Linked DNA regions of Homo sapiens. The protein of the gene in region 1 interacts with the protein of each later gene in a pairwise test. Each region holds a gene or a part of one and is shown in the gene's direction. Other genes may lie near its edges.

Region 1 (3,809 bases):
CTTTCTACATCTGGCTAGCCAGTTTTCCCAGCACCATTTATTAAATAGGGAATCCTTTCCCCATTTCTTGTTTTTGTCAGGTTTGACAAAGAGCAGATGGTTATAGATATGTGGTATTATTTCTGAGGGCTCTGTTCTGTTCCATTGGTCTATATATCTTTTTTGGTACCAGTACTATACTGTTTTGGTTACTGTAGCCTTGTAGTATAGTTTGAAGTCAGGTAGCATGATGCCTCCAGCTTTGTTCTTTTGGCTTAGGATTGTCTTGGCAATGCAGGCTCTTTTTTTGGTTCCACATGAACTTTAAAGTAGCCTTTTCCAATTCTGTGAAGAAAGTCATTGGTAGCTCGATGGGGATGGCATTGAATCTATAAATTACCTTGGGCAGTATGGCCATTTTCATGATATTGATTCTTCCTATCCATGAGCATGGAATATTCTTCCATTTGTTTGTGTCCTCTTTTATTTAATTGAGCAGTGGTTTGTAGTTCTCCTTGAAGAGGTCCTTCACATCCCTTGTAAGTTGGATTCCTAGGTATTTTATTCTCTTTGAAGCAATTGTGAATGGGAGTTCACTCATGATTTGGCTCTCTGTTTGTCTGTTATTGGTGTATACGAATGCTTGTGATTTTTGCACATTGATTTGGTATCCTGAGACTTTGCTGAAGTTGCTTATCAGCTTAAGGAGATTTTGGCCTGAGATGATGGGGTTTTCTAAATATACAATCATATCATCTGCAAACAGGGACAATTTGACTTCCTTTTTTCCTAATTGAATACCCTTTATTTCTTTCTCCTGCCTGATTGCCCTGGCCAGAACTTCCAATATGTTGTTGAATAGGAGTGGTGAGAGAGGGCATCCCTGTCTTGTGCCAGTTTTCAAAGGGAATGCTTCCAGTTTTTGCCCATTCGGTAGGATATTGGCTGTGGGTTTGTCATAAATAGCTCTTACTATTTTGAGATACATTCCATCAATACCTAGTTTATTGAGAGTTTTTAGAATGAAGGGCTGTTGAACTTTTTCAAAGGCCTTTTCTGTGTCTATTAAGATAATCATGTGGTTTTTGTCTTTGGTTCTGTTTATATGATGGACTACGTTTATTGATTTGCATATGTTGAACCAGCCTTGCATCCCAGGGATGAAGCCAACTGGATCTTGGTGGATAAGCTTTTTGATGTGCTTCTGGATTCGGTTTGCCAGTATTTTATTGAGGATTTTGCATCAATGTTCATCAGGGATATTGGTCTAAAATTCTCTCTCTTTTTTTTCTTTGTTGTGTCTCTGCCAGGCTTTGGTATCAGGATGATGTTGGCCTCATAAAATGAGTTAGGGAGGATTCCCTCTTTTACTATTTATTGGAGTAGTTTCAGAAGAAATGGTACCAGCTCCCCTTTGTACCTCTGGTAGAATTCGGGTATGAATCCATCTGGTCCTGGACTTTTTTTGGTTGGTAGACTATTAATTATTGCCTCAATTTCAGAGCCTGTTATTGGTCTATTCAGGAATTCAACTTCTTCCTGATTTAGTCTTGGGATGGTGTATGTGTCCAGGAATTCATCCATTTCTTCTAGATTTTCTAGTTTATTTGCATAGAGATGTTTATAGTATTCTCTGAAGGTAGTTTGTATTTCTGTGGGATCAGTGGTGATATCCCCTTTATCATTTTTTTATTGCGTCTATTTGATTCTTCTCTCTTTTCTTCTTTATTAGTCTTGCTGCTGCCTCACAATTCTATCTCGGACTGCTGTACTAGCAGTGAGCAAGGCTCCATGGGCGTGAGACCCACCGAGCCTTGCATGGGATATAATCTCCTGGTGTTCCATTTGCTAAGACCATTGGAAAAGCACAGTATTAGGGCGGGAGTGTCCCGATTTTCCAGGTGCAATCTGTCATAGTTTCCCATGGCCAGGAAAGGGAATTGCCAGACCCCTTGTGCTTCCTGGGTGAGGTGATGCCCCGCCCCGCTTCGGCTCACACTCCATGGGCTGCACCCACTGTCCAACCAGTCCCAGTGAGATGAACCTCGTACCTCAGCTGGAAATGCAGAAGTCACCTGTCTTCTGTGTTGCTCACGCTGGGAGCTGTAGACTGCAGCTGTTCCTATTCAGCCATCTTGGAATGATCCTGTTGAATACCAGCTTAATTTAATAGTATACAAAACCCAGCCGTTTACAGCTCTGTTGCCCCCTTTATGCTATTATCACAAATTACATCTTTATACATTGTATACTCCTTAACGTAGATTTATCATTGTTGTTTTATGCATTTTTTCCTTTAAATTAGATAGTAAAAAGAGTTAAAAAAAACGTAAAACTCAATATTACTTGCTTTTGTAGCTACCTGTATAGTTTACCAGTGTTCTTATTTTTTTGTATAGCGTGGGTTACAGTGAGTGCCTTTTCAGTTTTTCTAAAGAATGCCCTTTGGCATTTCTTGAAGGGCAATTCTACTAGTGATCAGCTCCCTCAGTTTTTGTTTATCTGAGAATGTCTTGTTTTCGCTTTCATTCTTTGAAGTATAGTGTTGCTGGACATAGAGTTCTGTATATGTGTTGACAGATGTTTTTCTTTTTCTTTCAGCAATTTAAATATCACATTTCACTGCCTTCTAGCCTCTGTGGGTTCTTAAGAGAAATCAGCTGTTAGTCTTATTGTTTTTTTTTTGTTATGTAAAAAGTCAATTTTCCTGCTTTCAAGATTTTCTTTTTGTTTTTTGGCAATTTGACTATAATGTGTCTGATTGTGGATATCTTTTAGTTTATTCTATTTGGAGTTCATTGCACTTCTTGGATGTTTAGATTCATATTTTTTACCAAATGTATGAAGTTTTTTAGCCATCATTTTTTCAAATACTCTTTCTGTTTTTCCTCTCTTTCCTCTCACTTTGGAAGCCCCGTTATGTGTATATTAGTATGTTAGGATATAGGCTGTATATTAGAGTGTAGGCTCTATTATTGTATATAGTAGAGTGTAGGCGGCTGTCCTCACAGCCTCTACTGATCTGGGATGTGGAGGATGGTAGGCAGCCACTTTAAAATGTCACAGTATCCTCTTACTACAAAGCATCAGTTCTTTTCTTCACCAAGTCTTCCTCTCTGGTTATTGTAACAATTTTACTAGATTCCAGAGTTCTGCAAAAGTTTATTCTGACAGTTTTTGCCAGCTCATTAGTTGCTTTTGAGGAGGGATGTAAGTCTGGAGTACTCTTAGTTTTGGTGCCCAATAGTATCCATTCTGAGATTAAAAAATAAAAATAGCTATGATATAATTCTACTTGAAAGGTAGAAATTTTCCGAAGAGACATGAAGTCCTTGCCCACGCCTATGTCCTGAATGGTAATGCCTAGGTTTTCTTCTAGGGTTTTTATGGTTTTAGGTCTAACGTTTAAATCTTTAATCCATCTTGAATTGATTTTGTATAAGGTGTAAGGAAGGGATCCAGTTTCAGCTTTCTACATATGGCTAGCCAGTTTTCCCAGCACCATTTATTAAATAGGGAATCCTTTCCCCATTGCTTGTTTTTCTCAGGTTTGTCAAAGATCAGATAGTTGTAGATATGTGGTGTTATTTCTGAGGGCTCTGTTCTGTTCCATTGATCTATATCTCTGTTTTGGTACCAGTACCATGCTGTTTTGGTTACTGTAGCCTTGTAGTATAGTTTGAAGTCAGGTAGTGTGATGCCTCCAGCTTTGTTCTTTTGGCTTAGGATTGACTTGGCGATGCGGGCTCTTTTTTGGTTCCATATGAACTTTAAAGTAGTTTTTTCCAATTCTGTGAAGAAAGTCATTGGTAGCTTGATGGGGATGGCAT
Region 2 (3,809 bases), on another chromosome or scaffold:
CGTGTCCTTCTGGACTTGGGTGAGCGGATGCAGTGTGGCGAGGTGATGGCGTGTCCTTGAGTGACAGCAGGGCCTGTGGTCTCTCTGGGGGCCTGTGGGACCCCATTTCTGAGCAGAGGCTGAGCTCAGTCACCAAGTGCCTGGATCCCCTCACAGGCCATTGTCCGGGGTTTCCAGCTTGGAGAGTGTGTCTCTGTGCAGAGAGAGGATGGTGTGGATGCCAGGGGAGAAGGGCCTGCCGGGAGCTGGAGGGACAGGCCCTGCCCTCTTGGGAGGGGGACCCATGCTGGAGGCTCACTTCATCAAACACTGAGAGGCGTCTGTGACTTGGGATCCCTCCCTCTGTGACTTGGGCCCCCTCCGGGCCTTGGTCAGTGCCTCTTCGTGGGTGCCTGGTTTTCCCAGGGCAGTGTCTGTCTCCAGGCTGCGGCTGCTCCCTCTCCATCCCCTCCAGAGGGTTGTCTTCTGACTCTGATCTACTTTGCTGCACTTCTCTGCCCTGCGGAAACCTCCGCCCCGAAATGAGCCAGGCAGCTGCCCTCCCGTCCTTCTGCAGGCTTCTCCCTCTTCCCCCCACCAGGGCCCAGAGCTGGAGGGTGAGCGTGCCCCAGTCCAGAGCAGTGAGCTGGGCACTGGAGGCCCTTTCCTGAGTCTGTGTGGCCGTAGGCCTGTCTCTGCCTGTGTGGTTTGGGCAGTGCTGTCTGGGGGCAGGAGGATGGACCAGGTAGCCTTTGGGCCCTCGCCCACCTCGTGGGGGTCCGATGAGAGGCTTTGGGAAAGTCCTTCCCTCCCTGTCACGTTGGGCTGTAGGGTCCCCCTAGACGGATCCTGAGAGGGAGCTCACCAGGGCGGCCCCTAGTGTCACTTCTCTGAGGGTTGTATGAAGGGCCTTTTCCAAGAGCTGCTGCTTCAGGCGCTTGGCTCAAGGATGCAGCCCTGGGACCCACTGTGCCGACCTGGCCCTGGAGGCCGCGGATGTGGCTGGAAAGCGCTTCCAAGCCAGCAGCATCCTTGTGACCTACCAGGACACGTCCCGGGAAGAACAGGTTGCAGACAGGCACGCGGGGTCTGGCTTCGGAGGCCTCAGCCTGGCGCACACGGCGTGTCTGTGACTCTGGGGTGCCGTGGATCGAAAGGCACATCGTGGTTCTGGAGATTTTAAAAGGCTTTTATAAGGTGCATCTGAGGATCAATGAATTTCAATGAAATGTGTCCAGAAATGTTTTGTGAACAAATGGAAATAATTAGAGAAAATTACGATGCGTTCCGTGCGGGGGCTGGGAGCCGGGAGATGGGGAGCACGCGTCTCTGCCTCCGCAAAGCCGAGTGGGGACAGCAGTGTGGCTTTGCTTTTCATCTCCCATACGCTACGGAGTGGCACTTTTATAAAATGCAGTAGAATGATTCTGAGCGTGGAGGTCGCAGCAGTTTCAAATTGCCTTAAACGATGCTGGAGCCGCACTTCCCATTTTGTACTTTGTTGCTGACTGGTAATAGCTGTCCAGGGATTAATCTGTGGCTACCCCTGCAAGCCCTGGGGGTTGTTTGCTAGTTTGCAGTCACATTTCAGAACTGGTTCAGAGAAAAGTCCGGAACACCTAAAGTTCTGAACTCCTTGCTGGCATTCAGCAGAAGGGGGATGATCCAGAGGATATAGCAGGCAGGGAGGGCTTCCTGGAGGAGGAGCCCTGAGTGGAGCATCTCGGGTCCTGGGTGTCTGCTGTCCGTGCATGGGGGCCTGGCACTGCCAGGAGCGCCCTGAGCTGAGAGTAATCGTGACTGTCCCTTGCTGTCCGTAGAGTGCGCTAGATGTTGGACCGAGTATGGAATCCGCCATTTCCCCTGCCCGTCGCCAGAGAGCAAGCTGCAGAACCGCTGTGTGGGGAAGGACGGGGAAGGTGATCTGGGGCCAGCAGGCACGCCTATTGTCCCAAGGGCCAGGAAGCGAGGTACTTCACTCAGACGCTGGGTCTCAGGGGTCCTGGGAAGGCGGCTTGGAGATGCAGGTGCTGAGGAGGGCAGGGTCAGCAGGTGGGAGCTGCAGGGAGGAGGCTGGGACCAGGAGGCAAGGGACCTGCATCCCCTGCCCCCTGCCAGGCCTTCCCCTGAGTAGGGTCAAGGGTGCAGCCGGCCCATACAGGCCACAGGATGGAAGCTGTGTGGTGGCCAGAGCTGGCCAACCCTGTAGGCTCAGGACTGAGCAGGGGTGCTCCCGCTGGGGGCTCTGGACCTGCTCTTGTGGCCCCTCACCCTCAAGCCCGACTGTCCTTGTGCAGTGGGCCGGTGAGGGGTGGCAGAGTGCTTGCTGTGGTTTGGGGAGGAACAGGTGCGGTGACCTCTGCAGGTATCCTGGTGGGCTTCCCTCCTGGTGGAGGGGCCCCTTCCAGGTCCTTCTGGGACACCAGGCCCCCAGGGAGAGGCCTGTACTTGAGTGCTTCTCCTTGGGGGCTCAGACATGCAGCACCAGGGAACCTGCAGTGTCGGGCACTGTCCCTGCCTTCAGGAAGCTGGTCCGGTTAGTGAAAAAGCTCGTCTGTGAGCAAAGACGCAGAGACTTTGCCACTGTTGCCAGTGCAGCCCTGTTCCCTTGCAGGATGGAGGGCTGTGGAGGCACAGGATGGTAGGGGGGTGAGGCTGCCGACCAGGCCACCACGTCCCCACCGGCCTCAGCCCAAGTGCGGGAGGGGAAGTCGAGGCTGGCCACCGTGTCCCCACCGGCCCTGGCCCAAGTGTGGGAGGGAAGCCGAGGCCTGTGCTCAGAGGGCTCTTAGTTGTGCTGTGGGCAGGTAGGCAGGAGCCTTCCAAAATGTCAGCTGGCAAGGCTGTCCCCAGGCGAGGGCTGATCCCGGGAGCAGCCCAGCCCTGGCCTGAGGGCAGGAAACCCTGGAGAGGGTCCAGGGCCGCAACCTAGCCTGCTCGGCTCCTGCACCTCTGTGGTGGCTGCAGGGGCAGGCAGGGCTAGTGGTGTGCTGTCTTGGAGATGGGGCACTGTGACCCAGAAGCTACGTGCTTGCTGATGGCACCTGGTGAGGCAGTGTCAGGGCTAGGGGATCGTGGGCCCAGGTCTCTGGACACCCAGCAGGGAGGGGTGGTGGCCAGGACCAGGCAGCCGTGTCCTGAAGCAGAAACCAGAGAGGAGGCGCCGTAGGGAGCTGCCGCCGGGGCCGCTGCCTCCACAGGCCCAGGGCCTTAAACATCCGCCTTTTGGTGCCTTTCCAGGGCCTGGGGTTGCCCCTGAAGGCAGCCGGATGCCGGAGCCCACCTCATCACCCACCATTGGCCCGAGGAAGGACTCGGCTGCTGGGCCCCATGGCCGGATGGCGGGGCCCAGCACTACCCGGGCCAAGAAGAGGAAGCCCAACTTCTGCCCGCAGGAGACCGAGGTGCTGGTGTCCAAGGTGAGCAAGCACCACCAGCTGCTGTTTGGCACGGGGCTGCTGAAGGCCGAGCCCACTCGCAGGTACCGCGTGTGGAGCCGCATCCTGCAGGCCGTGAATGCGCTGGGCTACTGTCGCCGCGACGTTGTGGACCTGAAGCACAAGTGGCGGGACCTACGAGCCGTCGTGCGGCGCAAGCTGGGCGACCTCCGGAAGGCGGCCCATGGCCCCAGCCCTGGTTCCGGCAAGCCCCAGGCCCTGGCTCTCACGCCCGTGGAGCAGGTGGTGGCCAAGACCTTCTCTTGCCAGGCCCTGCCCTCCGAGGGCTTCAGTCTGGAGCCGCCCAGAGGTGAGTTCCTTGCTCAGCTCACCTTGCTAGGGTGCCACTCTGTCCAGCAGGAGGGGGGGGCCCATCTTGGCCATGTTGCCCTG

The links.
Region 2: the proteins of ZDHHC15 (region 1) and TSNARE1 interact in a two-hybrid assay, tested with the Homo sapiens proteins (one large-scale study listed by BioGRID).

The regions. Positions count from the first base shown.
Region 1 is NC_000023.11:75,512,734-75,516,542, reverse strand, and holds part of ZDHHC15 (palmitoyltransferase ZDHHC15), read left to right. Parts: intron 1-3,809. UniProt on the Homo sapiens protein: Palmitoyltransferase that catalyzes the addition of palmitate onto various protein substrates.
Region 2 is NC_000008.11:142,343,883-142,347,691, reverse strand, and holds part of TSNARE1 (t-SNARE domain-containing protein 1), read left to right. Parts: intron 1-1,799; coding exon 1,800-1,949; intron 1,950-3,219; coding exon 3,220-3,726; intron 3,727-3,809.